Homo sapiens: one gene and its partners. The protein of the gene in region 3 purifies or fractionates together with the protein of the main gene of each other region. This does not show direct contact. Each region holds a gene or a part of one and is shown on either strand. Other genes may lie near its edges.

Region 1 (4,338 bases), on a different chromosome or scaffold from region 3:
ACTTTTCTACGACATTTTGAAGGAAAGGTTTTAGAGCTAAAATTAATTCAAAGCCACTAAATTAAGTATTCGCTCTCCAGCTTTAAAAGCATATGATCCAGCTCTTTTTTCCCTGTATTAATCCTTGTCCCAAACACACAACCATCTGGTTAAAACAAATTCACCATAAGTTTTAGTTACAAGAAACATTATTTCAAGACAGACTCTTTACTGTTAAAAAAGCAGACATTTATAGATTTATTCTTGCAGTTTAAAATAATAAATCTTGATGTAATCAATTTGAATCACTTGAACCCGGGGGGTGGAGGTTGCAGTGAGCTGAGATCGCGCCACTGAACTCCAGCCTGGGCAACAGAGAGAGACTCCTTCTCAAAAAATAATAATAATAATAATAAAGAGTACCAATTTTAGGGTTTTTTTTTTTTTTTTTTGAGACAGAGTCTTACTCTTGCTGCCCAGGCTGGAGTGCAGCAGCGCAATCTTGGCTCACTGCAACCTCCGCCTCCTGGGATCAAGCAATTCTCCTGCCTCAACCTTCTGAGTAGCTGAGATTACAGGTGCCCACCACCATGCCCAGCTAATTTTTCATATTTTTAGTAGAGTCGGGGTTTTACCATGTTGGCCAGGCTGGTCTCGAACTCCTGACTTCACGTGATCCGCCCTCCTCGGCCTCCCAAAGTGCTGAGATTACAGGTGTGAGCCACAGCGCCTGGCCAATTTTAGATATTTCTTGAGGCAACTCTGTGCCAGTGCCCTTACATATGGTAGTGACAAAGCGCCTGTCACCCTCAGATTTTAACAAAACAGAGAACAAATCCATAAATCAGTCTATCTCCAAAAGAATAAAATTAAGTGAGCTAAACTGATAACTGCCCAAAGGAAATCAGTTTTTGGAAGAAAATGATACCTCTTACTAATTATTATTTCACTAACAAAAGAACAAAGTGAATAATGCAATTAATAATTTCTTCATATTTATATATTTTCATCCAATTGCCAAAAAAAACCCCTCCAAACCTGAAATATGGTGAAATACTTACTCTATTTAATAAATCAATTTCTTCTTTGAGTTTTCCAATCATTTCCTCTTTATCTTGCATCAGTCTCACAAGTCTTAGGTTTTCTTGTCTTTCTCTTACTACTTCCTGGTAGATACAATTAAAAACCAGTAATTAGGAAGTAATTGTTTATTTATAATCTTCCTAAGTGGCATATATCTCCCCAATTTGGTAAAATATCTTACATACATGAAGATTTCCAATGAATCCCTTAAGACATTTGGTGAAGGAACAAAGATCCCACCACAAAAGGAATCAGAGAATGCACAGGAGATATTAGGATGCTCCTGAGTAAAGCTATGTTTATACAAGTCTTTAACAAAACTAATGTAATAGACTCAATGATTTAACCTCGTGTGTGTGTGTGTGTGTGTGTGTGTGTATGTATGTATGGCAGTGTTTCACTCTTGTCACCCAGGCTGGAGTGCAATGGCACCTTGGCTCACTGCAACCTCCACCTCCTGGGTTCAAGCGATTCTCCTGCCTCAGCCTCCCAAGTAGCTGGAATTACAGGTGCATGCCACCATGCCTGGGTAATTTTCATATTTTTAGTACAGATGGGGCTTTGCCATGTTGCCCAGGCTGGTCTCGAACTCCTGACCTCAAGTGATCTGCCCGCCTCAGCCTACCAAAGTGCTGGGATTACAAGCGTGAGCCACTGTGCCCGGCCTGTGATTTAACTTATTTAGCTTATCACCACTATAAGTTATGAACTACCTTATTTTTTAATGGGTATCTTGTTTGAAATAATTCAAAATTAATTTTTCTTAAAAATACAAAGTTTAAAGGAGATGGCCCAATAGAAACTCTAAACAGAAAAACAATGGTCCTCAGTTTTACTTCTGGCTCTGCCAGTTAACTGATAATGGATAAAAAGAAGGAACTAAAATAGATTACTGATTTTTAATTTTTTTTTTCTTTAAACAATGCAACATCTTTTTCAAAGACATCTTATTTAGAATCCAGGGCACTGGGCTTGGTCAGCCACCTTGGGGGCAAAAGGGAAGCAGAGCTCAAAAGGCCTTGCCCAGAACTTGGCTTCTTTCTTACTAAACCTCCTACAGAGCAATCAACCATCCATATCCCTTAGCTGCTGCCAACTACTAGCAATTCAATCCAAACTCTTGTGGAACTCACGAAGCCTTTCTGGGCAACTATCTTCAAAACTATTAGATTACATATTGTCTAAACTTTTTAATTTAAAATTATGAAATAATAGGCTGGGCACAGTGGCTCACGCCTGTAATTCCAGCACTTTAGGAAGCCGAGGCGGGTGGATCACCTGAGGTTAGGAATTCAAGACCAGCCTGACCAACATGGTGAAACCCCTTCTCTACTAAAAATACAAAAAAAGAATTAGCCGGGCTTGGTGGTGCATGCCTGTAATCCCAGTTACTTGGAAGGCTGAGGCAGAAGAAACACTTGAACCTGGGAAGTGGAGGTTGCAGTGAGCCGATACTGAGCCATTGTACTCCAGCTTAGGCAACAAGAGCGAAACTCTGTCTCAAAACTAAATAAATAAATAAAAATAAATAAAACTATGAAATAATAATTCCAAGAAGAAACTGTTGTTAAAGCTTAGAAATGTGACCTCAAAAAATCATAAATGTTATAAAATAGAAACAAGTTTTAAAAATGAAATTTCTTTACATAACATATATAAATTAGATCTTTAATAATATAGAGAATAATCTCAAGTAAAACAAAACACATTTTCAACAATTACAAAAGTATTCAACACCATTGCTAATTTTAGGGGTTGAATGTCTATGGCACAAACCTGAGACCCTATGGTTAATAAATTTATGCCAAGAGTCATCTGACTTGCACTGAAAGACACTTTTAAACAGGCATATTCTTAGACAAAATTGTTTCAAACACCAAAGATGGACCTAACTCAGATTTACTCCTGTAATTTGTAAAGTTACAAATGAAAATCTATTCAGACAATATAATAAATACACAGTAGTATATATTTGCCAGCTCAGACTTCTAACCACTTCAAAAACAAGGGCTTTTAATATACTAAAGGTAACAGTTGGCAGAAAAGCGCACATATTAAATATTAAGGAATATTATTTCCTTTCTCACTCAGTTGCTATGAAACAAAAGAATTCTAATGGTATATTAATTTTATCAATCTTAAATAACTTATAATCCATACCTTTTCAAGATCTTCAATTTTCTTTTCCAGTGTGCTACTTGAAACCAGAGTACCTGAAACATTTGCATCCCTGTTATATCTAGGGAACCCACTTCTATCTGTTCGAGAATATCTACTTGAGACATCTTCTTCAGAGACACTGGTTGTGCTGTGGAAATATAAACATTTTATTAAAATCCCTAGTATTCAGCAAGAAAAATGCCAAGAATATTTTCTATTGAGCTTAAAAAAATTAACATTCCCCAAGGACATATGGTTATAGTAGCAACTTATTTGTAACTGTAGAAGTTAATCATTATTCCCACACAATGAAAAAAATGTAAAAGTACCATTAATTCTTTCGACCAATATCTACTGAATAGGTGTTAAGTAACGAACACTGTTCTGGATACTGAAGACGTAACAGCAAACACAAACATGGACTCTGCCCTTCATAGAGCTTTTGGTTAAAAGGGAATATAACTAATAATAAAGCAAGATGATCAGTAAAATAAGGTCAGTGATGGATACTATGAGAACTACGATAGGACAGATCTCCCAGATTATCTTTTTTTTTTTTTTTTTTGAGATGGGGTCTCACTCTTGTCACCCAGACTGGAGTGCAGTGGTGCAATCACAGCTCACTGTGGCTTCGGCTTCCTGGGCTCAAGAGATCCTCCCACCTCAGCTTCCTGAGTAGCTGGGACTACACGTATGTGGCCACCACACCGGGCAAATTATTTTGTATTTCTTTTTTCAGAGACGGGGTTTCACCATGTTGCCCAGGCTGGTCTCAAACTCTTGGGCTCAAGCGATCCACCCACCTCGGCCTCCCAAAGTGCTAGGATTACAGATGTGAGCATTGTGCCTGGCCTAGATCGCCCAGACTATGTGTGGTGAAAAACCACTTTCCTTCTTCAAAATTACAATCTTTCATGGACCAACACTTTTAAAAAGTAAAATTAAAATGAACTGCTGGAAAAATAAAAGTTAAAAAGGTCATACAAAATACAAGTCCAAATGTTTTATTAGATTCAGACCCATAAAATTATAAATAGAAAAAAAGAAAAGAGTTACATCAGTGGCAAATTCTCCACTATAAGTATGCATACAGGCAATCAATACAGAAAATTGCTA
Region 2 (4,338 bases), about 83 Mb from region 3:
CGTGGTGGCAGGCGCCTGTAGTCCTAGCTACTCGGGAGGCTGAGGTAGGAGAATAGCGTGAACCTGGGAGGTGGAGCTTGCAATGAGCCGAGATCGCGCCACTGCACTCCAGCCTGGGCAACAGAGCAAGACTCCGTCTCAAAAAAAACAAAAAAAAGAAAACTTTCAGAAATTTATTTTAGTGATTGTTGAAAGAATACCTAAAAAATAGAATGAGTGTCTTTTTGGAGGAACATGACTAGATGGGATTAGTATACTTGAGTACAGAAACAAAATTAAATTGAAAAATTGTTTCCTGATAATCTCAGGAATATGTTTTCAGGCATACTGTATATTTTAGGCAGTAGATTCAATGACTAAGAACTCTGATGTGAAACAATTTTGGTTAACCAAGGTGCTCACTTAAAGAGCAAACGAGGAAATGAGGATTATCAAATTAGAGTAAGTAAAAGGGACAACAATAAAATTTGTTGAAAGCCATCTTAAATATAAATTCTTAGACTTTAAAATACTTTCTTGAGTGGTCTCTTCATTATAATAAATGTCTTTATAAATGGTTAGGATTTCATGGTAACTAAAATTGGTGGGTCAGTTTTAAGTTGTATTTATGCAGTTGAGGATTTTTAATCTATTAATTAAACAACTGTTTGAATTTACTTAAAAAAAAAAACTCAGTCAAGATGCTGTGCATTTTGCTAAAGCTGGGCTGGAGAAGTGGGGAGAGATACAAAGATGAGTATAAATGAAGGTTTTCTTTTAGCCTGTCAGAAAAGAGTAACTCTACTGATTGGTTGATTTTGATAGTTATCGGTAGTGTAGTTTTCCTTAGTTTCCTACTAGAACCCAAAGGGTGGCTGATGTCTTAAAAGTCCTAATCTTGTGGCCAGAAATTTATGAGCTTTTATTTACTCTTGGTCATCACTTTGTAATACATGAGAGTATACTCATTATACATTATACCACAATTTCTGTAACTTGGTTTTTGTCACCCCCGCCTTTTTTTTTTTTTTTTTTTTTTAAGAGACGTAGTCTTGCTTTGTTGCCCAGGCTGGAGTGCAGTAGCGTGATCTTGGCTTACTGCAGCCTCTGCCTCCCAGGTTCAAGCAATTCTCCTGCCTCAGCCTCCTGAGTAGCTGGGATTATAGGTGCCTGCCACCACATTTGGCTGGTTTTTATATTTTTAGTAGAGATGGGGTTTTACCATGTTGGTTAGGCTCTTCTTGAACTCCTGATGTCAAGTGATCCTCCCGCCTCAACCCCCCGAAGTGGTTGGGATTACAGGTGTGAGCCACTGTGCCCGGCGACATTTTTGACATTTTTTAAATGACATTTTTGATCAGGATTGTTTTTCATGTTACTTCCATCTTAAAGGCACTTCGCTGTCTAAGCTTCAATTCTTAGTTCTGCTTTTAAGTAGCTTTTTTTATTCCACACAAAAAGCAGAGGCTACTGAATATACAGCCTTCTTGGTGAGGATTATAAAGGGCTTTAGTTTGGGTGGTGATGTCTGTAGTAAGAATAAAAAGTTAAAATAAAAGGTAGCTGATGGTGGTGGTGTATACAGAGATTAGTAGGGTTTCTAAGAAAGAATAATAAAAATTTGTGAAATTGTTTCTATTTTTCTGATTTTTTTCAAAAAAGATAATTGTATTCATGGATTACTTGTGTAACTATTGTTACAATTTTTAAAAATAAAAGAATGATAATTAGGCATGATGAAGATTAAATCTTTTTTTTTTTTTTTTTTTTTGAGATGGAGTTTTTCTCTGTCACCCAGGCTAGAGTGCAGTGGTGCGATCTCGGCTCACTGCAACCCCTGCCTCCTGGATTCAAGCAATTCTTCTGCCTCAGCCTCCTGAGTAGCTGGGATTACAGTAGCCACCATGCCTGGCTAATTTTTTTGTACTTTTAGTAGAGACAGGTTTTCACCATCTTGGCCAGGCTGGTCTCGAACTCCTGACCTTGTGGTGCACCTGCCTCGGCCTCCCAAAGTGTTGGGATTACAGGTGTGAGCCACTGTGCCCGGCTGAAGATTAGATCTTTATGACTAATTGGATTTTTGGGTAAGGGATTCAGAACTTGATAGATGCTTCTTGACTTAAAGTGGGGCTATGTCATAAGTCAAATGAGTTTAATTCTCAGATAAACTCATCCTAAAGTTGAAAAATTGTAAGTTGGGCCACCTGTAATTGGGGACCATCTGTAATTGGGAGAATGCTAGTGACATTGAAATAATTAGTTATCAGTTAGACATAAATATGTACCTTTTGAAAATTTCCCATAGAAAATTTGAGTCATTATTGAAAATACATTTTCAAATTCTTTTGATTCATCAATAAGTTTGTTTGCAAAAGTTAATGACAGTGGCATAGAATTGAGTTTGTAGACCAAATTACATGGCATAGATATGTATTTAGACGAATATGACCTGAAAATGGCCCTTTTCTGACCTAATGGTGGGAATCAACTCTTGTTTGATGTTTCTTAAAAGATTCTACTTTATTAATTCTGCTTGTTTTAGTTACATCCAGAGCATTCCAGTTGTTAATGAAGAACACAGAGGTGATTTTTCCTATATTGGAAATTTGATGACAAAAGAATTCATAGGTCAACAATTGATTCTAATTATTAAGTCTTTGGATACCAGTGAAGAAGGAGGAAGGTATGTCTAAATGTTAACACTCATTCTAATTTGCCCTTCTAATTTCTTATATTGAAATATAGTCCTTTTACAATATAACTAAACATATTTACCCTAGCTCTCTAAAGTGGTATAAAAAGTTTTCTTTTCCCTTCTACATATTTCCATATATACACATACATTTATATTTCTAGTTCAATTTCCTCAGAATAAATCAATGAAATTGCAGTTTTTGGTTAAAAGTTTCTGTTTAGATTTATTAAGGCTAGTAGCATTTTCTAAAAGGTTTAATCATTTCTGGTATTTTGTCATTTTATCATGTTGATTTATTAAAAATCATAGGGTGTTTTATAAAAATTTTTTTTTGTGTGGAATAAGAATATTTGACCTAAAGTCTGTACATACAGATTTTTGTACCTATTATAGTGATAAACCTAAGTGAAAGAACTGAGGCAAATGTAATTAAGTTTGCAGAGTAGGTGAATGTTAGAGATAAAACATGTTTTGTCATAATAATATTTAAATTAGTTCTTTTTGACTGCAGAAAAAAACTGCTGGCTGTTTTACAGGAGATTCTTATTTTACCCACAATCCCAATATCCCTGGTTTCTTTTCTTGTTGAAAGACTACTCCACATCATTATAGATGATAATAAGAGAACACAAATTGTAAGTAATTTTCCTCATTGTTGATAAAGAGGTTTTGGTCAATGACATTGAATACTGTCTTATTTTCTGTTTAGAACTTTTTGTTTTGTCTGTTTTGTTTTAGGTTCGTCTCTTTAATGAGTTTTAAAATTTCTTAAAACCATTATCTATCTCTTACATACACAGAATATTTGAAAAATGTCACCTTCTTCCTCTTAGTGTACCTGTTATTGTTGAATCAGTTTGAAATGGAGCAGGTTTGGTAGGAAGTTACAAGTGGGGATATGGTTTTGTCCATGAGGCACTGGGTGCTAGTGTTTTTGAGAGCTTACTCAAATTGTACATACTAGGGTTTAGAATCTCATCTGACACTTTCTGGCTTTGTGGCTTTGGACAAGTTATTCTGCTGTTTTACTTGTCTGCAAATAAGAATAGCAATGAAATCTACCTTTCATTTTTCAATGAGGTATTGTTCATAAAGGTATTGTTCTGTATTGCTTGATAAATACAGAAATAATTGTTTACTATAATACTATTTCAGTGTTATTTTTTTCTGGCATAGCCAAAAAAGACAGATCTGTATCATTTATTTCATAAAAATCACATAATTTCAGTTGCAGGTTAATTCACAGATCATCTCTTCCATCCTCTCCTTATATATACACCCCTTCTACAACATGCTTAGTTGTTATTCAGCATCTGCTTAAATACTTTCATTTGGGAGGCAGCCTTTTCCTGATCAGCCAATTCCAATATACAAGTGGTTCTGAAAGGAAAGTCCTTCCTTATGCTATTATTATTTATGCATTGTCTACCCAAAGGAAGAATAAAAGGATATTCCATTTTTCTGTGTTTAACTCCTACAGAGCTGAACAAGAGAAGGGTTGAGGATTTTAGGCAGAGAATTTAAGTGTCTCATCTTAAGCACCATAATTCATATTTCTGTTTTTCAAACATTATATGAGGGATAATTTACTTTCACTGTCTGTGTGCCTATTTCCCTTCCATTCAAATAATTTCATTTTGTAGTCAGATATATTGTTTTGTTTT
Region 3 (4,338 bases):
AAAAAGTATACAGTGCATTCTAAAAGTTAATATAATTGACAGTAAAAATAAACAAATACAAAAAAACTTGATATATGGCAAGATAAAAACTTAAAAATCATTTTCTGGCCATGTGCAGAGCTTAATGATATGTATGAAAATTGAATATAATATCTAAAATATCCTGGGAAGTAAGTCCTAGGGATATTAGGTGATATTTTAAAAAATCTACTTAATTTACGATGTGAAGTTTATTTACTTAAAAAAAATCCATCAGATTACAGAATGAGCTAGTTATATTCATGCAGAAAGAAACATTTCTGTTTTTGAGACGGAGTCTCCCTGTGTCACTCAGGCTGGAGTGCAGTGGCACGATCTCGGCTCACAGCAACCTCCACCTCCCAGGTTCAAGAAATTCTCCTGCCTCAGACTCCTGAGTAGCTGGGATTACAGGCGCGCGCCACCATGCCTGGCTAATTTTTGTATTTTCAGTAGAGATGGGGTTTCAACATGTTGGTCAAGCCGGTCTCGAACTCCTGACCTCATGATCCACTTGCCTCGGCCTCCCAAAGTGCTGGGATTACAGGCGTGAGGCACCATGCTTGGCCCAGAAAGAAACAATTTTATACTGAACCAGCATCACATCTCTACTGTACTTTAAATATAGAGCAAAGACCAATGCTCTATGCTCTATAGAAGTGTGAAATAGTGTCTTGCAAAAATGGACACAAAGACACAGAGCAGGAAACAAGGTTTATTTATTGTGCTTTCGCTTGAATTTTAAAATAAAAAGCATGCATTTTCTTTCCAATAGGAAAGTAAACACATTATTTTTATACTTGAACACTTGAACCTCAATGATAGGAAGAACTTGAATGTTTTATTTTACCTGAAAATAATTTTTCTCTAAAAACTAATGAACTTTAAAAGAATATTGAGTTCATGGTAGTAGAGACTTATGGTATGCAAATACATTCATAATTTACTAAAGTATTTCCTCAAAACCATGAGTTTCATTAACAAAAGTATTAAAGAAACACTACAAATGAGAGCTATATGAAAATGGTTATTCATTTTGTAGTAGAGGTTTACAACCTTTTTGCTGGTGATTGCGTCTTAAACAAAATAGTACAATAGCCTTATCCTTTCTATTTATTCTCTACAGTATAGAACTCTATTCAGTGTATCAGTTTTGTTCAAATAATTAAAACACTATTTTGAGGGAAGTTTTCACTAATCCCCCTTTGAAGGAGGACACTTAGTAAGTTTCTCATCTTCCATCCAAGGCCATGAAATTTGATCAAGGCAAGAGAATAAAACATAAATGCATGTCTTTCATGCCCATCATTTGCTAACAGAAACTACTATACTTATTTGTAATTTGACTTTTCATTTTCCAAACCTATTTCAATAAGTGGTTATCAGGTTAATATGATACATGGATACATGAATAGATAAAATATTTGCTTTCCTTCTCCACTGAACACAATGGGAAAACACTGTTTACTAATTTAATAACTTATGGCAGCTGATAGAATTAACTTGCAAATGTTCATCATATAGACTTCTCAGACTTAGCAATCAAGTTTCCAAACTCAGAAGAAATGGAAAAAAACAATTAAATGGCAATCAATCAAACAAGTGACACCAAGGGAGTCTTTGTATGAATGCCCCTAATGATAAGCAAGATCTAGAATTTGAACTGTGCCCATGGTTATTCTTAAGTGAACCTATAACTTAAGAAATAAATTCTGTACACCTTGAGATTAGTGCATCACTTATTTGAAGCCAAAGTCTACCTATCATACATTAGGCTTAAATATATACTGAGTAGTATGTATCTTTAGAAGAAATCTCAGCAAAATTCCAATCTTTATAGTTCAAATACAGTAATTTAGAACAATGTGACCAATTTATTCTTGCTAAAATTACTGGTGAGAATAATAATAAAAGGTTAGAATTATTTTCACCCCTCTGTTCTATGGGATAAGTACAAGCGTATTTTCTTAGGTCTCTAAAAGTAGAGGAAAGAAGATAAATACAGTTTTCAACTGTTTATAATTCCTCCAGAAAAAATTTGGCTTAGATTTCCTAGATAGAAAGCTTAATGGTGGGCACAAATTTTCAATAACATATGTTATAAATATCAATGTGAAGAAATTATCATACTTTAAAATAATTCCAAGTAATATTATTTTAAAATGACCTAAGAAAACATTTACATCACTTTCTCCCTTTGGTCCGATTTTGGCACCAAGAAAAATACACTGCGATTTTTTATTACTCTCTATCTTTTACATCATTGCAATCAGAGTTAGAAACATACCAAAGAAATAAAAGATTGTCTATCTATTGTACTACATAAAACTATCCCATGTTACTAGATTTACTCAAGAAAGAGACACAATCCACTTCCACATTCAATGTAACTCATCTTTTTGCTGGTTTAAACAACTGTTAATAGCCAATGCTAAACTGGAGTATTTCTTAAAAACTTCTTACAAATACTTCTTAAAAAGTCCAGTTTTTCACTCAGCCACTCAGTAAAATTAATAAAATATTATCACTGTCCTTGTTAGATTGCTACTTAAAAGTCTCAAGTTGTAACAAATAGATTTTTAAAAAACCATAAAATGAGCACAGTTTAATGGTTATGTTATGATATTTTCCCAAGGGCAAAGCAACATTTCTAGCATAACACATCATGAATATACAACGGATTGTTTGAAAAAAGCCAAATGGAAATGATAAGGCATATTTTTTTTAGAGGTCAAATATTTTATATTTCCAAAGACACATGTCAGATGGTAAGACCAACCCTGAGGTTGTAGAGATAAAAATTCTTCCAAGTATAAACATATCTCTCTTTCTAGATAAAAATTTAACACAAAGGAGCGATTCATGACCACTTTAAATTATTTGAACTCAAAAGAATAAAGTCAGTGATAAAGGCAGGGTAATTAATGTCTTCTATTTATTACTGTAGCGCACAAAATGATTAGACTTGGAAAATAACAAAACTTACTTTTCTGATATCATCTAAAGTGTTAATCTCTGGAGACAAACCACCATGCACACACAGGAACTGTTGGTTCATCAGGGCAGCCAGGGGAAGGCAGTCAAAGGCATCCATACAGGCATCATATACGCGTTCTGAATACTTTATTTTACCTTTTAGAAGTGATTAAAAGAATACTTATGATTTATAGGCAGGATCATTTCACTGAAATAGTTTTGGTTTTTTGAGAAGTTTTCTTGCTAGGACCCTATTATTAACATAAAGGCACATACTACAAAATTCCAAAACATAATTAAGATTTTCTGAAAGTAACATATTAATCTTTTATATCTAGTATTTCCTGTTTTTGTCATTTATTAATTCATACTTTATAATTTTCATAACGTTTTGTATAGCAAGAGAATTTTTATATACATTCTGGCTATTTATCTGCAGACGTCTCACCAAAAAAATGTACATGAACAACTGGAAGACCAATAGAAAAACAGCCATAAAGCTGCTTGATATTCCTTAACGATTTTGTAGAAAAGCAGATGGCAAGACATTTCCTAAAGCTGTTTCTATCTTACTGCACATTGCTTTTCCCATGACTTATATCTAATGTTTTAAGAGGAGAAGTCTTTATGCTCCATTGAATATAGGACTAAATGAAAGAGAAAAATATTGATATGTATAGAGAGATTCCCAGCTCTTCCATTTAACTGTATTTATACATAAAACAAAAATGTAAGGTTTTATACCTTTGTAAGATTCAGTGAATAATAAGAAAAATTGTAAGGAGGAAAAAGAAATTGAAAAAAGCACTCCACACTCCTAGTGTCTATGTCTAAAGAATGACATCATCTTCAGTTTTATAAGATTCACTAGAAGCTAGTATTCATTTATTGGGTCCAAAACAGAGGCATAGGGTTGAATTTGCCCTCCATTTGCGTTTTTTGAGTAATGTGAGATTAATGAGTAGAATTATTGTTCCAAACAGTAGCATCCCTAAATCACTTGTTTCTTAGGATAAATTACATCAAATCTTAATTCAAATTCTTCAATCACTTTATAAAGAAGTTCTAATTTAAAAAGAAATTCTGAATTCTCATAAATGTCCATGCTTAGAAAGAAATATAGGATAATATGAAAGAGTGTCACTTTAAGTCTTTGACTTTAGGCAATAGATCATATTGTATGTATCTTATTATTGATTAAAATTACTTTTTAGCACATATAGTGTTAAAGGAAGGAGGTTGAAGTATACTTACATTCTTGTTTAAATGTGAAATACTCTGTTAGATGTCTACATTCATGATTTCCACGAAGTAAAAACAGTGTTTTGGGGTAGAGAATTTTCA
Region 4 (4,338 bases), on a different chromosome or scaffold from region 3:
GAAGTCCTCATCGCTATCAAAATCAAACCGAGAATATTCACAGCTAGGGCTGTCTGTTTTAGAAGGAAAGCCCATCTGGAAAAAGAAAGGTAATTGGGGTAGGGGATGAAAGTGGACCCACTGAAAGAGTTTTTAAGCTTCAGGAGTTCAAGCACTTTTAATTTATTTAAGAGTTAAGCGTTTGCATGAGATATTGTATGGTAAATATCCACTTCAGTTCTATCACAGGTCCACAGTTTGCTCCCAGTTCCAGTATTCCTCAGTGGTAGAAAAGAGAATACTTTTAGTTGATACCATCCTCCAAGTTCCTCAGGGAGAATTAAATTCTTGAATTCTTTTAAGGTCCCCAGAAAAAATGACAATTCAGTATGTAGTAAGGAAGAAAGAACTGAGAGCTACTTGCCTCAAATACTGAACACTGAGAATAAACTTGTAGAACTTTGTATGTTTCATTCAGAAAAGAATTGAAGACCATGGCAGAAAATAAGAACACAGTGTGGCCGGGTGCGGTGGCTCACGCCTGTAATCCCAGCACTTTGGGAGGCCGAGGCGGGTGGATTGCCTGAGCTCAGGAGTTTGAGACCAGCCTGGGAAAAACAGTAAAACCCTGTCTCTACTAAAATACAAAAAATTAGCCAAGTGTGGTGGTGGGCACCTGTAGTCCCAGCTACTTGGGAGGCTGAGGCAGGAGAATTGCTTGAACCCAGGAGGCAGAGGTTGCAGTGAGCCAAGATCGTGCCACTGCACTCCAGCCTCGGTGACAGGGTGAGACTCCGTCTCAAAAAAAAACACAGAACACCAGTGTGTGCTATGTGCTAGGCAAATTCCTTAAGAAAATAAGGGGACCCTTGAATGTGCACCATTCTCTGATGTTACAAATTGAGATTAACAATCTGTCAACTGCAAGAGCTCTTAGCAGGGAATTCATGAGCAACTCTCTACTGAGGTAGTGAGCAATCTTTGCTTCCACTCTCACTCCCCTCATTTCCCTTTGTAACTCTCACTTGGCCTCCAGAAGCAATGCTTAGATATTGCCTCCTCTTGGAATCTTCCTGACTCAACCCTCCTATGTACTTCCAAAGCATTCTGCTTTTAACCCCTGAATAGCAATTATTACATTGTATGGTCACTGCTCTTGCCCTAGCACCTAGCCCAATACTTATGATATATTAAGTACTCTCATATGGAAGAGCAGTTATAATAACCAGTAAGGACTGATTTCTTCCTAAGGAATAAGAAAATATGTCCAGTAAAGGAATCTTAGTGATGAAGAAGGGCTGTTAATAATGCCAATCAGTCTTTTTTATGTTTCCCCCGAGACAGGGTCTCACTCTCATTGCCTAGGCTGGAGTGCAGTGCTGCGATCTCAGCTCAATGCAGCTTCAACTTCCCAAGCTCAGGTGATCCTCCCACCTTAAGCCTCCCCAGTAGCTGGGTCTACAGGTGCATACCAACATGCCCTGCTAATTTTTTTGTATTTTTAGTAGAGACGAGGTTTTGCCATGTCGCACAGGCTGGTCTCCAACTCCTGGGCTCAAGCGATCCTCCCGCCTCAGCCTTCCATAGAGCTGGGATTATAGGCGTGAGCCACCGCACCCAGCCTCAAAGTCTTATTATGTGTATTCACCTACATTCCACATGTTTAGATTCCCATTATATACCTTGACCAAGTTAGTCATGGAAGCACGAAGATATTTTGGTATTATTGCTAATAGCAAAGGATCACGGGACAGGATTTCATGCCTGAAGAGGGCTCCCCAAGTCATCTGAGTTGAAGAGCGTAGAAACTAAAGAGAAAAAAAAAAGAAAACGTCAAAGGATTTGGATTCTATATAACCCAGATTATTACTTAGCAGTTATCAACTACATTTTTTCATAGAAATAAATCTGTACAATACTTTGAAGCTGTCTCTACTGCAATTTATCAGTAATGACCACCCACTATGGACCACATGTTAGTAAGACAGGCTGTGGATCAAGGAAATTACCTGGAATGTGAGCTGAATTTTACTACTTTCTCTTCTTTGCAAAAAAGGATACTGGAATCTCAGAGTGATATTAGAAGGACAATTTTGAACAGAGTGAAATTAATTTTATAATACAATTAATCAGACTTTTGTTTCAAAAATCTTTATAACTTTAGTACTAAACCACCTGGGACACACCTCACATGTGACTGAGTACAATCAGAATATTACCTAAAGGGAAAAGCTGCTGACCTAGACAAGTGCACTGTTTGGCTCAGGAAGAAGAGCCAATAATTCTCTTAATGAAATGACACTACGGTCATTCCCCAAGGCCTGAAGAGTCACATTTTATACATGATCTACAATAATATTTCAGGACACAGTGCTTGACATTGGTTCACCTAACTAAACTTTTGAGAAGTTACCTGTATAAAGTTTACCTGACTTGGATGGGTTGTGAAAGCAAGAAAAGATTCCAGGTATTTTCCAAAGTTTGATGGTGTTTCTACATCAGAATCTGCACCCTGTAGGAGAAGACCACTATATTAACGGTGTTGATCGAGAAAAGCAGGAGAGGAAAAAGCAGGGAAGTAATAAAAACAGATAAATTAAACCCTCAAAAAATGTTGTTTCAAAAGGACTTTGTATTTCCTTTTGGCTAAAGAAAGGCATCACTTCAAGGGCTAAAATATAGGTTACTTTGCCTACTCAATCATCATCATTACTTTGCCTACTCAATCATCATCATTAAAACCCATTCTGTGGTCAAACAGTAAAATAAAAAACACTCATTTCAGAAATTACAGAAAGAAAAAAAATCTGTATTACTTCCTCAGACCTTACCTATTCACATCTCTGTGTCCCAACCTATTACCTAATCCCTTCAATAGTTTCTTTTCTTTTTTTTTTCTTTTAGATGGAGTCTCACTCTGTTGCTCAGGCTGGAGAGCAGTGGCACGATCTCGGCTCACTGCAACCTCTACCTCCAGGGTTCAAGCAATTCTCCTGCCTCAGCCTCTCGAGTAGCTGGGATAACAGGCATGCACCACCACGCCTGGCTAATTTTTGTATTTTTAGTAGAGACAGGGTTTCACCATGTTGGCCAGGCTAGTCTCAAACTCTTGACCTCAGGTGATCTGCCCACCTCACCCTCCCAAAATGCTGGGATTACAGGCATGAGCCATTGCACCTGGCCCCCTCAATGGTTGCTTATCTCTGAAACTATCCTCTCTAACCATTTAAACCACCACAAAAAGATATAACATCAATTGCAAATGTCTGTTCCAATGTCCTATCTTCCAACTTATAAGACTGAGTATTAAATATTTCTCTAATGGCAGGTTTTCCAGGTCAATCAGACTCAAGTTTTCTTTTGTGCTCCAATAATACATCCCTTAGATTGGGAAAAGAGTTCTTTATTCAAGTCCATGTTTCGTGGGCTAACAGAATGTAAAAGCATAAAGCACTCAGCAGATTGAGGTTCTGTAAGTACCAAAATTCACAAGAAACCAACGTTGACTTTATGGAATAATAGACGTGGATATCTGACGTTGGTATAACTATTTTATTGTTAAAAGAAATTTAGATCACTCAAACACTATTCTATTAAGATAATTTAATCTATAGAATCATGCAATAACTTGTATGGCACTGCCCCATCAGGCTAAAATCAATGACATTTGCAACCCCTCATTGAAACATAAGTTTCTAAATGCTCTTCCCAAATGGGCTTGAAGCTCTCCAGAAAGCAAACACTAGCTCACCAGCAATGCACACAGCTGATTGCCCAGCGCACACAACACCTGACAGAGCCTCTTCAGAAAGACGTAGTGTTTTTCTACCAAACCTCCTCCATCAGCAGTCCTGTAAGATGAGAATTCCTTATATCACCAACAAAATTAAAAAGGCTGTAATAAAAACATCACTTTGTGTCTCATTTCTCCAAGTCATTTAGTTAGGTCTGTAATTCAGCAGAATTCCAATAGCTTTGCTAAATTAAAAATTTTTTAAAATCTTTTTAACTTATTTGGTGGCAAAACCTGACCTAAAATGATATAGGACTATTCACACAAACAGCAATTAATAACTATGAGTGTGAAAAGCAACTATATTAGCTGTCTTCTGGAGGAGGACAGTATCACATAAAAGGCAAGGACCTTGGGGTAAACGAGGCCTAGGCTTTAGGAACATTGAAGGACAGGATGGTATTATGGTGTCCAATGCAATCTCTGGAGTTTGACTACCTGGGTTGGAATCACCGCTTTATGAACCATGGTTGTGGTATGGCACCCACAGCACAAACAGAAACGGGACACCACTTAGTATGAGTGTCATGATGTCTATGGAACTAAGAATTGGACCTAAAAATAGT
Region 5 (4,338 bases), on a different chromosome or scaffold from region 3:
GTGTCTAACCATCAAGCCACATTATACAGTGGTTGACAGCCTCAGATCCAGGGACCCCCACATCCCCGGAGGGCATATGTGTGAGTTTCAGGGGCCCTAGAAGTCCCCTGAGACTAAAAGCACGATTTTGTACATTATGCATATTCTTTCTGGGGAAAGAAATTGCTATCCTGTCCAACGTGATAGTCACCAGCCGTGTACAACTCTTTACATTTTCGTTAATTGCAATGAAATTTTAAGTCAGTGCTCAGTTGTATTTAGTGCTTTTTTTTTGAGACACAGTCTTGCTCTGTCACCTAGATTGAAGTGTGGTGGAGTGATCTGGGTTCATTGCAACCTCCATCTCCTGCTTCCTGGGTTCAAGCAATTCTCCTGGCTTACTCTCTCGAGTATCTGGGATTACAGGCATGCGCCACTATGCTTGGCTAATTTTTGTATGTTTAGTAGAGATGGGGTTTCACCATGTTGGCCAGGCTAGTCTCGAACTCCTGACCTCAAGTGATCTGCCCACCTCGGCTTCCCAAAGTGCTGGGATCACAGGCATGAGCCACTGTGCCTGGCCTAGTGCATTTCAAGTGCTCACCAGCCATAGGTGGCCGATGGTCCCCATGGTGAGCAGTACAAATAAAGCACATTTCCATCTTCCAGAAAGTCCTAATGGGTAGCACATGGCTCATGTTTTTTTTTTTTTTTATCATGTCCTTAGAAGGATCTGTGACCCAAAAAGTACTCAACTACTCCCCTAAAATTTTTGAATAAGTATCTTTTTCACTATGAAGTAATCTGTAAATAAGCTTTCAGTCAAGTCCCAAACCTTTCTCTTGGGCTAGGCACAGTGGCTCACGCCTGTAATCCCAGCACTTTGGGAGGCTGAGGCGGGCGTTCGAGACCAGCCTGACCAACATGGAGAAACCCCGTCTCTACTAAAAATACAAAATTAGCCGGGCGTGGTGGCACATGCCTGTAATCCCAGCTACTCAGGAGGCTGAGGCAGGAGAATCACTTGAACCTGGGAGGCGTAGGTTGTGGTGAGCCGAGATTGTGCCATTGCACTCCAGCCTGGGCAACAAGAGCAAAACTCTGTCTTAAAAAAAAAAAAAAAAAAAAAGCTTTCTCTTTTTGCCACCAGCCTCCCTAGCCACCACACAATTAGCAAAGGAAAAAAGGAAAAAGACAAAAATGATACACTCATCATCTCTCCACGCAGAAGCAAGCACTGCTAATATACTGATCATTCTCCCAAACTTTCCCCTGTGGGGATCTTTTCTCCCCTAAGCAATTAAGATCAAACTAGTAACAACAATCTCATTAAAATGCTCTTCCTTGACTGGGCCTGGTGGCTCACACTTGTAATCCCAAGACTTTGGGAGGCTGAGGTAGGAGGATCACTTGAGCCCAAGGGTTCGAGACCAGCCTGGCCAACATGGCGAAACCCCATCTCTACAAAGAATACAAAAATTAGCCAGGCATGGTGGTACATGCCTGTTCAGCTACTCGGGAGGCTGAGGTGGGAGGATCAGTTGAGCCTGGGAGGGTAAGGCTGCAGTGAGCCGTGATTGTGCCACTGCACTCCAGCCTGAGAGACCAACTGAGACTCTGCCTCAAATAAAAATTTAAAAAAATAAATAAAATAAAATGCTCTTCCTCTGTGCCCAGCACTATGCTAAACATTTCACACAAATCATCTCATCTTCATGACAATATCTGAGGTAGGAACTATTAATGCCCACATTTCACAAGCAAGGAAATAAAAGCTTGCACCAGAAATGCAGTGTTCTCAACATCAGCACTGTATTGCACTACTAGAAATGTTTGGAAATGTCCCTTCCACAGTGGCATTCACATTCCATCAAAATGCTCTGTGTTGAAACAATCTGAACTTGGAACAAGAGGGAATTTGAAGCTGCCTTCAAGTTCTCCCGATGGTAAATGACACCAAGATGAACATCTCTCTGCGCCTGTCTTTGCCTTTGCCAGAGCTGGACTGTGTCCTTGGCCACAGTGGGGTGATGGGGGCAGTACTCACCGCTGATGACCTCCTGCCGCTTCACCTGGCTCTTGGGCAGGCTGTGCAGGGTGTCTGGGGGGACGAGTTCCCGCCAGCCGGGAGGCTCTTCTGGTTCAAGCTCCAGTCCCGACCGCCCCGGCTCCCCCTCATCTCCAGGCTCGGGGCTGTGGACAGAGGCCTTGTTAGGGCCCCAGCTTGGGCCATCCCAAGAAGCAGCCTTCAGCCTCTTAGAGCGTTCAACCCCGGTCAGTGGCCTTGGCATTCGATGCCCGCAGGGTGGCCCGTGCAGCAGACCAGGTCTCTAGATCGGACCACACTAGAGTTCCCAGATCTCTAGAAGCATTCTACCCCCTCCTCCTCCAAGGTCTGTGACCACAGTTGGCCTCAATGACCTCGGTCTCCAACGCCCATTCCTCTGTGACTCTGACAACAATCCCTCCCTGATTCTCCAGGCTGCCTTAGTGGATGGGGGAAGGGAGAGGGTTGACATACGTGGCTCGTCGGGCAGGGCCAAGCACTGCCGTGGCGGAACTGGGGTCCATGTCCACGTCGCTCCGGGAGCGGCCCCCACCCCGGCCCTTAGCCCCGAGGCTGCCCCGGGAAGGCCGGCGGCGGTCACTCACCCGCAGGCTCTCTGAGCGCCCCAGACGCCCTGATAGCCTGGACCCCGAGGCCAAGGACAGAGTCAGGCAGATGCCGGGGACAGAGACAAGGAGAGACCAAGACAAGAACAGAGACGAAGAGAAACCAGGACAGGGACAGAGACGGGGAGAGACCAGGGCAGGGACAGAGGTGGGGAGAGGCCAGGGCAGGGACAGAAATTGGGGAGAGACGAGGACAGGGACAGAGACGGGGAGAGACCAGGACAGGGACAGAGACAGGGAGAGACCAGGACCGGGGCAAGGGTGACCAGGACAGGGATCAAACATGCAACAGAAGAGAGGAGAGAGTCAGAGGAGTGGTGGGATTTTAGGGGCACTGGGGTAGTGGGGGGTCTTGGGGGAGGGGGGATACTGAAATTTGATGGGGGAAGGGATGGGGAACCCAGGATGGAGCATAGGACTGACCCCCTCCCTTCCCTGAGGCAGGGGGATGGCAACAGAGGGGGTGTTATGGGGTGGGGAGGATTTCCATACTTAGCTCTTCAACTGGGAGGGTGATGTCCCCACCCACCCCTCACAGGGAGTGAAGGGGAGGGAGTGGCCATGGGGAGAGGGGAGGGGCTGGGAGAAATGGGGGAGGGGCTAGCCCTTCCCCCACCCAGGGCCCAGGCACCCACCTCTTCCACCTTCTGGGGAGAGAGGGGCACAGGGTCAGAGGTGGGCCCAGATGGAACCTGACCCACCTCCCCGCACCCACCAAAGGGTCCCCAAAGCAGCGGCACAAGGACGGGCAGGAGGCAGAGCCTGCCCCCCAGCTGTAAGGGGGACAGGGCCCCCAGGGCACAGAGCAGAGGGGTGGGGGGTTGAGGGACGGGCACCAGGAGGCAGGAGCGAGGCGGGGGGTGGGGGGCAGGGGGCAGGGGGGCTTGAAAGAGAAGGGGAGGAAGGGCTGAAAAAATGAAAAGTGGCAGGGAGATCGGAGGGGGATGGAAGGTGGGGAAAGAAAACCCAGGTGAGAGAGGAGTGGGGAGGAAAGAGAGGAGGGGGAAGGTGAGAGAGGAGGGGGGAGGTGAGAGAGGAAGAGGGAGGTGAGAGAAGAGAGGGGAGGTGAGAGAGGAGCGGGGAGGTGAGAGGAGGGGGTAGGTGAGAGAGGAGGGGGGAGGTGAGAGAGGATGGGGGAGGTGAGAGAGGAGAGGGGAGGTGAGAGAGGAGGGGGAAATAAAGGAGATGGAAGGAGTGGTGGAGAGGAAGGGAGGAGGAGAAGGATTAGTGAAAAAAGGAAGGAGAGGAAGGAGCAGAGGAAAAAGGAAGGATAAAAGGAAAGGGGGGCAATGAGGAAGCAGGAGGGAGATGAGAAAAGGAAAGAAGAAGGGAGAGGAATGGCCAGACCCAGAGAGCAGCAGAGGAGCATGGGGAGCAAGAGCCTGGGACAGGCAGGCACAGATGGCAGCGGTGACCCTGCACCCACCCACCAGCGCCCAGTAAGCCACACCTCCCGCCCCTGCACCCCAGCCTGGGCACCTCTCGGTTTCGGCCCCCTCGTCGGTACTCTCTGGGGGCGCCAAGGACTCCAGGCTCATTGGGCCCTGCGGGGATGAGTCCCCCAGCTCCAGGGGGGCGTCAGCACCTGTGGGGTGGAGGGAGCAGGGCTGGCTGGAAGGCCTCTGCGGCCACGAGACCCACACTCTGGGGGCCTGGAATTGCGGGGGCTAAAGCTACCCAGTGCCT
Region 6 (4,338 bases), on a different chromosome or scaffold from region 3:
TTATGGCAAGTGCTATGGAAGAAATCGGTAAATAATTCACAGTGCTGATGACCAGGGCTTTCATTAACAGATGGCTTAGACCATTTTAGGAAATTCCTGATTGGGTAAAACAGAACATAAACATTTTAGCAATTAAGAGTTAGATATATCTTACAGTCAATAAGTATTCTTTTTTTTTTTTTTTAAACAGTGCCTTTGCTACCCTAGAAGAGGAGGCTTGTACAGAACTTGTTCCTTACCTTGCTTATATACTTGATACCCTGGTCTTTGCATTTAGTAAATACCAGCATAAGAACCTGCTCATTCTTTACGATGCCATAGGAACATTAGCAGATTCAGTAGGACATCATTTAAACAAACCAGTAAGTATCTGTTAAGAACTATTAGGGAAAATAATGTGTAGCATAGTTACAATTAATAGATTAGCATATATTTGGAAATTAAGATGTTTTGGGAGATGTGAATAGTTAGCGTTAGCTACTTTAAGAGTATAGATCTTACAAAGGCAGCAAGTATATCCCCTTTCATGTGGTATTCTTAAAGTAAATACATACTTGGTGTGGAAACTACAGCAGCATTTCACATGAATGCTCTGATACTTTTTAGAATGACTAAAGCAAAGGGATAAAAAAGTTTTTATAATCTGGATATCTGCTTTTACTTAATTCCTAATGTTTTTGAATCTACCACTTCATAAACACTGTAGCTTTAGAGTACCATATCTAGACATCTTTGTTTTTTCAGCAGGTACGGGGAGTATACTGTATAAAACAAATAGAAATTGGGGTAGTAGGTTTAAAAATGCTAAATAGTAATGCAAAAGTGCCTTGTTTCCAGTAGTGTTAGTAGAAGAGGAGGATGGATTTGTCTAATGAGGATTTAAGTGATAGTAGAATTTTAATATAGCTCCACATACCCTGCTGAATAGACTTCTATATGATTGCTATATCCAAAGTCTTAAGAAATTGTTTTATTTTTAAGTTACACTTAAGATTTGGTACAGGGCAGTTTATAGGTTTGCTTTGCTGTTGGTTGTTTGGTTTGGCTTTTGTGGGGGTTTGTTTTCTGAATGTCTTTAGAGTCTGTGCCCCTGTTTACATGATCACTATGTTTAGTCGTTTTATGGATCATTCTTTAGTTTGACACTTAAATGATTTTAAGTTTGTTTTTCTACAAAAGCATCTGTGTAAGTTTACCTGTTGATTTAAAAATGTACTATATAGTAACAGCCATATTACACGTTACAGTTCCATGACTAAAAGGAATTTTTTTGTGTGTGACAAGGTCTCACTCTGTCACCTAGGCTAGAGTGCAGTGGTGTGATCACAGCTCATTGCAACCTCCACCTCCCGGGCTCAAGCGATCCTCCCATTTCAGCCTCCCCTGTAGCTGAGACCACAGGCGTGTACCACCATTCCTGGCCAACTTTTTGTAGAGATAGTTTTGCCATGTTGCCCAGGCTGGCCCAAACTCCTGGGTTCAAGTGATCTGCCTGCCTCAGCCTCTCAAAGTGCTGGAATTACAGGTGTGAGCCACCATGCCCAGCCCCAGAACTAAAAATATTCTGTAACTTAAAGAGAAAAACTTAGGTCTGGGCACAGTGGCTCACACCTGTAATCCCAGCACTTTGGGAGGCTGAGGTGGGCAGATCAAAAGGTCAGGAGATCGACACCATCCTGGCTAACACGGTGAAACCCTGTCTCTTTAAAACTACAAAAAATTAGCCGGGTGTGGTGGGGGGTGCCTGTAGTCCCAGCTACTCGGGAGGCTGAGGCAGGAGAATGGCGTGGACCTGGGAGGCGGAGCTTGCAGTGAGCTGAGATCACGCCGCTGCACTCTAGCCTGGACGACAGAGCAAGACTCCGTCTCAAAAAAAAGAGAAAAACTTAGATCTTCCTTGATTGTGACTTTTTTAAGTAATAGATTTTGATTAGCTGTGTGTTTATTGATAGACTCTTTTTTTCAACAAGGATAAAAGATCAGTAGATCACTAGTTCTAGATCTAAAACTAGAACACGGTCATGTAAGTATAAAGGTAGGCAACAGAAAGGAAAACTTTAAAAGGGACTGTGCAGAGTGAAGAATGACTCTTAAAATGCCTTTTGTAATGATTTTACACAATTGCTCAAAATGGATTTTAATTTTCAAAGACTCAAAATGGTCTTGTTGACATGTGATAGTGGAATTTTATATGTTTTTCATCATTGTAAATAGGAATATATTCAGATGCTAATGCCTCCACTGATCCAGAAATGGAACATGTTAAAGGATGAAGATAAAGATCTCTTCCCTTTACTTGAGGTATGCAGGGCTAGTAATATTTAATCTGTTGCCAAGAACACATGTTCAAATCCAAAATGGGTATATATGATAAGAAAAGTGTTAATAAATTTATATTCTGAAGTAGACGGAGGAAATTATATGATACATACTGTTCTCTAACCTGCTTTACTTAATTGATAATAAATTAGAGTTTTAAGTTCTCTTATGTTATCTACTCTCTATATAGAGTAGATAGCATACTACTCTATATAGTATAGAGTAGATAACATACTGGGAGGATATATATACCGGGATATATATATATATCTTTTCACTCATACATATATGTTGAGTAGTGGGATTTGGTGCCAGTAAGGAGGTACTTATTTTCAAATTTGAAAATGTTTCCATGTGTACTTAACTACTTTTTTTTTTAACACCCCTTTCATTGCAAACTTTTATATGATGTTCTCGTAACTGAACACACTGTGAAATGTAGTCACTTAAACTTAGTTGAATTGACATTGATAGAACCAGTTCAGGCCTTTTCATTCTTGCTCCCTGTTATTTCAAGGTTCACCATCTTCTACCGTGGATTGTTCTTAGCCAAAGAAGTTAAATTTTCTATGACCAAGAGCAATTCTGGGCCCAGCAAAACAAGAAGAATCATTATGGTTCATTTTTTGTATGCAGTCGTCCCTCAGTATCTGCAGGGGATTGTTTCCAGGACTCCCCTTGGATACAGAAATCCAGCGATGCTCAAGTCCCTTATATAAAATGATGTGGTATTTGCATATGGCCTATGCACCTCCTCCCAATATACTTTAAATCATTTTAATTGTTTTTCTAAATACTTTTGATTCAAGATTGGTTGAATCCATAGATACAGAGGGCCAACTGTATATATATTACTTTCCGGCAGGATCTCAGAATGTGCCCAGTAAAGTCCATTCACAACATTGACCAGGATGGGAGCATGAAATGAATCTCTTCAATTTGAGGGAAAAATATGAACACATAATACTCAATCTGTCCTTTAAAGATAATGTTTCTTGTAGAAACGCTTCCTCTGAGTAAACCTGACCTGATTGGCTGGCAAACTAACAACAATGAATGGCTTCCAAAAGAGAGGGTTGGGGTGGGGGGAGGGGAACCTGCTACTGTAGAAACTAGTAGAGCAAGCTCATAAATGATCAGGATCCTGTTGAGCGCAGTTTCAAGCATTCATCATAATCTTCAGTATACCCAGAAAGTTTAGCATGTGTACTTTATTCTTCCTAGTGCCTATCTTCAGTTGCCACAGCACTGCAGTCTGGATTCCTTCCGTACTGTGAACCTGTGTATCAGCGTTGTGTAAACCTAGTACAGAAGACTCTTGCACAAGCCATGGTAATTTTTTTAAAATGTCTTCCTCTTCTTGACATGGTGGACATTTTTCTAAAGATAGGTATAATGTATACAGACTTTTTAAGTAGTTAATTAAAACCAAACTTACAAAAAACATTGTGTCTAATTTCAGCTAAACAATGCTCAACCAGATCAATATGAAGCTCCAGATAAAGATTTTATGATAGTGGCTCTTGATTTACTGAGTGGCCTGGCTGAAGGACTTGGAGGCAACATTGAACAGCTGGTAGCCCGAAGTAACATCCTGACACTAATGTATCAGTGCATGCAGGTGAGACTTGAAAGGTGAAAATGAATTGAAGCCTGTTTCTCTGTGTCACATTGGGGTTAATTTCTTCTTATTTCTTGTAGGATAAAATGCCAGAAGTTCGACAGAGTTCTTTTGCCCTGTTAGGTGACCTCACAAAAGCTTGCTTTCAGCATGTTAAGCCTTGTATAGGTATGAATATTTTCTACTGCTATGAATATGGTTTTTTAAAGTTAACATTTACATCAGCTTTGTTTTTTTATTATTAAACTGAAATTGCATGGAATCCCAACATTTATAAATGTACACTTTATTGGTTAAAGTAAACTTGCTGTGATTGAAACAGGCAAGATGGCAGGAACCCCTAATATTTCCTTGAGCTTGCCATCATCTCAGCTTTTTAGGTACTCCTGTGACTGGAG
Region 7 (4,338 bases), on a different chromosome or scaffold from region 3:
TTAATCATTCATGAAACCAAATATTAGTTCACAGGATTGAGACAAAATGCAGTGTATTTGACTTGACCAGAGAAGCAAGACTCAGGTTCTGGTTCCAGCTTTTTCTCTTTTACTATAGACAAAACATTTAACACTGGACTTCTTGTTACTCTCTTTGGAAATAATATCTCTTCTAACAAGCTGCTGGGTTTTTTTGTTTTCTTTTTTTTCCTCTTGCTCTTTCACCCCGTCTGAAGTGCAGTGGCTCAATCTCTGCTCACTGCAACCTCTGCCTCCAGGGTTCAAGCGATTCTCCTGCCTCAGCCTCCCAAGTAGCTGAGATTATAGGCGCCCACCACCATGCCCGACTAGTTTTTCTATTTTTGGTAGAGACAGCGTTTCACCATGTTGGCCAGGCTGGTTTTGAACCCCTGACCTCAAGTGGTTGGTCCACCTTGGCCTCCCAAAGTGCTGGGATTACAGGCGTGAGCCCTGGCACCCGGCCTCAAACTGCTATTAAAAAAACAAAAACAGCTATGATTGTATACTTATATAACACGTTAGTTTTCTTTTTTTTGGTTTTTTTGTTTGTTTGTTTTTTTGAGATGAAGTCTAGCTCGTGTCCCCCAGGCTGGAGTGCAGTTGTGCGATCTCGGCTCACTACGACCTCCGCCTCCTGGGTTCGAGCGATTCTCCTGCCTCAGCCTCCCGAGTAGCTTAGATTACCTAAAATTACCTAGAAAAAAATATGAAACAGTGTACAGTACCCAGCAGTCAGGTGTCAGTGCTCAAGATTTTTATTAAGAGTGACGATCTGAAGTGCAAGCATTTACTGAAATGGAAATGATACTGCACAACATTTTATTTGAAAATTAACATGTTATAGGCCGGGCGTACTGGAGGCCTTACATAGTAACCCAGGGGTATAAGGATATAAAGTTGCATTTTCTCATACAACTCCACTTCCTTTTTTACGTTAAGGTATTATATTCCCTAAAGAGCCTTGTTCTTCTCTATACTTAATACTGCATCAACTCCAAGAAGCTCTTAATTAAAAGAAGATCATCTGGGCTCTTAAGTTGCATTAAGTTAGCAAAAACTACTGCAAAACTGTGACGATTCATAAGATTTTTTTTAAATTCATTTAACAGATGTTAAAATGAAACTGTACTTCACAGAGTCAGTGAAGTACACAGATCTTAATTCATTGTTTAGTAACTTTTGTGGATTGTATAATGCTTTGGCTTCTATTTCAAGTTTTCTTTTTTAAGGGGGAAAGATACTGTTGTCATTTTGAGAAAGGTAGATGGCACTTTTTGTTTTCCTTGTGTAAGAGAAACGGATTGTTATGAAAGCTTTGAACTTTCCTGGAGTTCGAGAGTACACTGGTCCTCTAAGTGCGGTCTCCAAATCACGATGATCAGCATCACTTGTTGGAACTTGTTGGGAATGCAAATTATCAAGCCCCACCCCAGACCTTTGTGATCTAAAAGCCCTCCAGGTGATTCTGATCCACACTGAAGCACGAGAACCACTGACCTTAGGAACTGTTACCTGTTCCTTTGCTTCCGTAGAGTGAAGTAAAAAGTGAGGAACTCAGAAGAAACCAAATTATCTCTCTTTTAGAGTATTTTTTCAGGAATCTTTACCGTATTTATCCTGTGTAAATTGTTTTCTCTGACTGTATCTGTACTAGACTTGGCATGTTTTCTCCTCTTTACAGTTCAATCTTTGTAGAGCTGTTTTCTTGCCAAATTTCAAAGAAAATATTTTGTTGGCTGAAATCCTTGTTTTCATAGATCAGTTGGTTTAGAGCCAAGTTTTGCAACACAGCCTGAATGAAATTGCTTTCAACTTTTAAAATGTCTTGAAATTGGTTGAACTAAGGAAAAATAATCCTAAGAATTTACCTTTATACTATCTTTCCCTGTTAGTCTTTTCATTTTACGTTTTTGATTGCTAGAAATACTTGATTTTGGTGTCTTTTAAAAAAAAATGTATGTATTCGGCTAAGTAATTTAATTGAGCTAAGGGCTTTAAAAGGTCTTTGGTTATTGTATATGTATTTAAAGATTTTGACAGCCCAGAATTAGGTGATTATAACAACTCTTGAGTTAAAATAACTGGTTTGTTTTTAATAGTAAAAGTTGACTTTATTCAAGATCCTGGTTGGAAACTTGGTGTTACCCATCTTGGGAAGAAGGGACATTTTTGGAACTATGCTTGGAAACATAGAATTTAAATTTTTTCCTAAATAGTGGTTCTTTTTCATTTCTGTGTGTAATAATTTATTTGTTTCACAGTAGCAACACAGATGAGCTTAAAATATTTTTTCTTATCCTTTGCGTTTATTAGTTTTAGCTTTTTTTTTTTTTTTTTTGAGATGTAGTCTTGCTCTTGTTACCCAGGCTGGAGTGCAGTGGTGCCATCTTGGCTCATTGCAACCTCCGCCTCCTGGGTTCAAGCAATTCTCCCGCCTCGCCTCCCGAGTAGCTGGGATTACAGGCACCTGCAACCACGCCTGGCTAATTTTTTTGTATTTTTAGAAGAGATGGGGTTTCACCATGTTGGCCAGGCTGGTCTTGAACTCCTGACCTCAGGTGATCTGCCCAGCTTGGCCTCCCAAAGTGCTGCGATTACAGGCATGAACCACTGCACCTGGCCAATTTTAACTCTTCTATGTAGGTAAATTTTGGGTTAACTAAGGAACATTTACCAATTTGGTTAAACTTAGAAAGCATTTAAGTGTTGTAAGGACCAAGTTTTTTTTCCTCCTCGTATATTCCTTTGAAATGTTGATTAATTCTCTACCTTGGGTCCATCAAAATATGATAAATTATTGAGACTTGAAAGAACATTTGGGATTAAAATCTGAAGACCAGAAATGTCAGCTTGTAAATATATTGGCAGATTTGACGCAAATACTAATCAGGCCTTAAAATAGGTAAACTTAAAACACGTTTCTCTCTAGAGACTCAAAGAGCACCTTCAGTCGTATCTATAGAAGCAAGACAAATTGTAAAGTCTTATAAACTGAAGAATGTAATGTTGTTATTTACTATTTAGGTACTTGGAGCAAAAGTATAAAAAAAGTTGCTGTTTACTAACTCATTTGGGTATTATCAATCATAAAAATAGGATTTTCTGTTAACATAGGAAATATAAATCTACATAATTCCTTGCATATCATCTTGTGTTCCTTTCCTTGGGTAAGATTATTATAACTTTTTTAATTAAAAAAATTTTTTTTTTGAAACAGGGTCTCACTCTGTCCCCCAGACTGGAGTGCATGTCATGATCTCTGCTTATTACAGCCTTGGCCTCCCAGGCTCGTGATCCTCCCACCCCAGCCTCCCAAGTAGCTAGGACTACAGGCATGCACCACCTGTAGCTCAGCTAATTTTTGCTTTTTTTTTTTTTTTTTTTTTTTTGGAAGGACGGGTTTTCACCATGTTGCCTAGGCTGGTCTCGAACTCCTGGGCTCAAGTGATCCACCTGCCTTGGCCTCGCAAAGTGCTGGGATTAAAGGCATGGGCCACCATGCCTGGCAAAAGCTTTTTCTTAAGTGATACAGTTTTTTATATGGTTTGATTAATCATTGTTCTAACTTTATTTATTACATTTTTAAGTTGTGTTTTCTGCTTTTTTTATTTTAAAAATTTATTTTTATAAATACAAAGTATATTTTTACTGTTTTTTTGTATTGAGATGGGTCTCATTATGTTACCCAGGCTGGTCTCAAGTTCCTGGGCTCAGCGGAGCTGCCTGCCTCGCATTCCCAAAGTGTTGGAATTACAGGCATGAGCCTGATGCCCGACCCTAACTTAACTTTAGAATTGGCTTGCAGATATGGGACATGAGTCAAAATACGTAGAATTAAGACATTTAGGGAACAACGATGGTGCCTAATATATTTGAGAGAACTGTTTTCAAAGTTAGTAACTCTTTCTATCCGCCTTCACCTTTTAGGAGGAAGTTAACATCCCTAATAGGAGGGTTCTGGTTACTGGTGCCACTGGGCTTCTTGGCAGAGCTGTACACAAAGAATTTCAGCAGAATAATTGGCATGCAGTTGGCTGTGGTTTCAGAAGAGCAAGACCAAAATTTGAACAGGTTAATCTGTTGGATTCTAATGCAGTTCATCACATCATTCATGATTTTCAGGTATGATTTAGGTTATTTTAAGATATACATGAACAATATTAAGAGTTGTCTGGATGATACAGAAACTATCCTTGCTCTCAAGGAAATTACTATGTTTGAAAGCTCTAAAGTTGTATTATGCAGTAGCATTTTTTTCATTTAGCATGACATGGTATATGTAAACCTTAAAGTTAAATTTTGACACGCTGACAAAGA

Evidence for each region.
Region 1: the proteins of PPP3CA (region 3) and PAWR fractionate together in Homo sapiens (co-fractionation; one large-scale study listed by BioGRID). This does not show direct contact.
Region 2: the proteins of PPP3CA (region 3) and NCAPG purify together in Homo sapiens (affinity purification with mass spectrometry; one large-scale study listed by BioGRID and IntAct). This does not show direct contact.
Region 4: the proteins of PPP3CA (region 3) and XPO5 fractionate together in Homo sapiens (co-fractionation; one large-scale study listed by BioGRID). This does not show direct contact.
Region 5: the proteins of PPP3CA (region 3) and ARHGEF1 fractionate together in Homo sapiens (co-fractionation; one large-scale study listed by BioGRID). This does not show direct contact.
Region 6: the proteins of PPP3CA (region 3) and TNPO1 fractionate together in Homo sapiens (co-fractionation; one large-scale study listed by BioGRID). This does not show direct contact.
Region 7: the proteins of PPP3CA (region 3) and MAT2B fractionate together in Homo sapiens (co-fractionation; one large-scale study listed by BioGRID). This does not show direct contact.

Annotation. Positions count from the first base shown.
Region 1 is NC_000012.12:79,593,289-79,597,626, forward strand, and holds part of PAWR (PRKC apoptosis WT1 regulator protein), read right to left. Parts: intron 3,371-4,338; coding exon 3,223-3,370; intron 1,146-3,222; coding exon 1,041-1,145; intron 1-1,040. UniProt on the Homo sapiens protein: Pro-apoptotic protein capable of selectively inducing apoptosis in cancer cells, sensitizing the cells to diverse apoptotic stimuli and causing regression of tumors in animal models.
Region 2 is NC_000004.12:17,820,462-17,824,799, forward strand, and holds part of NCAPG (condensin complex subunit 3), read left to right. Parts: intron 1-2,521; coding exon 2,522-2,662; intron 2,663-3,185; coding exon 3,186-3,309; intron 3,310-4,338. UniProt on the Homo sapiens protein: Regulatory subunit of the condensin complex, a complex required for conversion of interphase chromatin into mitotic-like condense chromosomes.
Region 3 is NC_000004.12:101,095,363-101,099,700, forward strand, and holds part of PPP3CA (protein phosphatase 3 catalytic subunit alpha), read right to left. Parts: coding exon 4,249-4,338; intron 3,151-4,248; coding exon 3,005-3,150; intron 1-3,004. UniProt on the Homo sapiens protein: Calcium-dependent, calmodulin-stimulated protein phosphatase which plays an essential role in the transduction of intracellular Ca(2+)-mediated signals. Many of the substrates contain a PxIxIT motif and/or a LxVP motif.
Region 4 is NC_000006.12:43,558,517-43,562,854, forward strand, and holds part of XPO5 (exportin-5), read right to left. Parts: intron 3,892-4,338; exon of another isoform or gene 3,831-3,891; coding exon 3,731-3,830; exon of another isoform or gene 2,884-3,730; intron 2,492-2,883; coding exon 2,408-2,491; intron 1,788-2,407; coding exon 1,662-1,787; intron 76-1,661; coding exon 1-75. UniProt on the Homo sapiens protein: Mediates the nuclear export of proteins bearing a double-stranded RNA binding domain (dsRBD) and double-stranded RNAs (cargos). XPO5 in the nucleus binds cooperatively to the RNA and to the GTPase Ran in its active GTP-bound form.
Region 5 is NC_000019.10:41,896,276-41,900,613, reverse strand, and holds part of ARHGEF1 (rho guanine nucleotide exchange factor 1), read right to left. Parts: intron 4,238-4,338; coding exon 4,132-4,237; intron 3,300-4,131; coding exon of another isoform or gene 3,288-3,299; intron 2,669-3,287; coding exon of another isoform or gene 2,501-2,668; intron 2,173-2,500; coding exon 2,027-2,172; intron 1-2,026. UniProt on the Homo sapiens protein: Seems to play a role in the regulation of RhoA GTPase by guanine nucleotide-binding alpha-12 (GNA12) and alpha-13 (GNA13) subunits. Acts as a GTPase-activating protein (GAP) for GNA12 and GNA13, and as guanine nucleotide exchange factor (GEF) for RhoA GTPase.
Region 6 is NC_000005.10:72,889,596-72,893,933, forward strand, and holds part of TNPO1 (transportin-1), read left to right. Parts: intron 1-190; coding exon 191-362; intron 363-2,214; coding exon 2,215-2,301; intron 2,302-3,543; coding exon 3,544-3,651; intron 3,652-3,781; coding exon 3,782-3,940; intron 3,941-4,020; coding exon 4,021-4,108; intron 4,109-4,338. UniProt on the Homo sapiens protein: Functions in nuclear protein import as nuclear transport receptor. Serves as receptor for nuclear localization signals (NLS) in cargo substrates.
Region 7 is NC_000005.10:163,508,054-163,512,391, forward strand, and holds part of MAT2B (methionine adenosyltransferase 2 subunit beta), read left to right. Parts: intron 1-3,948; coding exon 3,949-4,143; intron 4,144-4,338.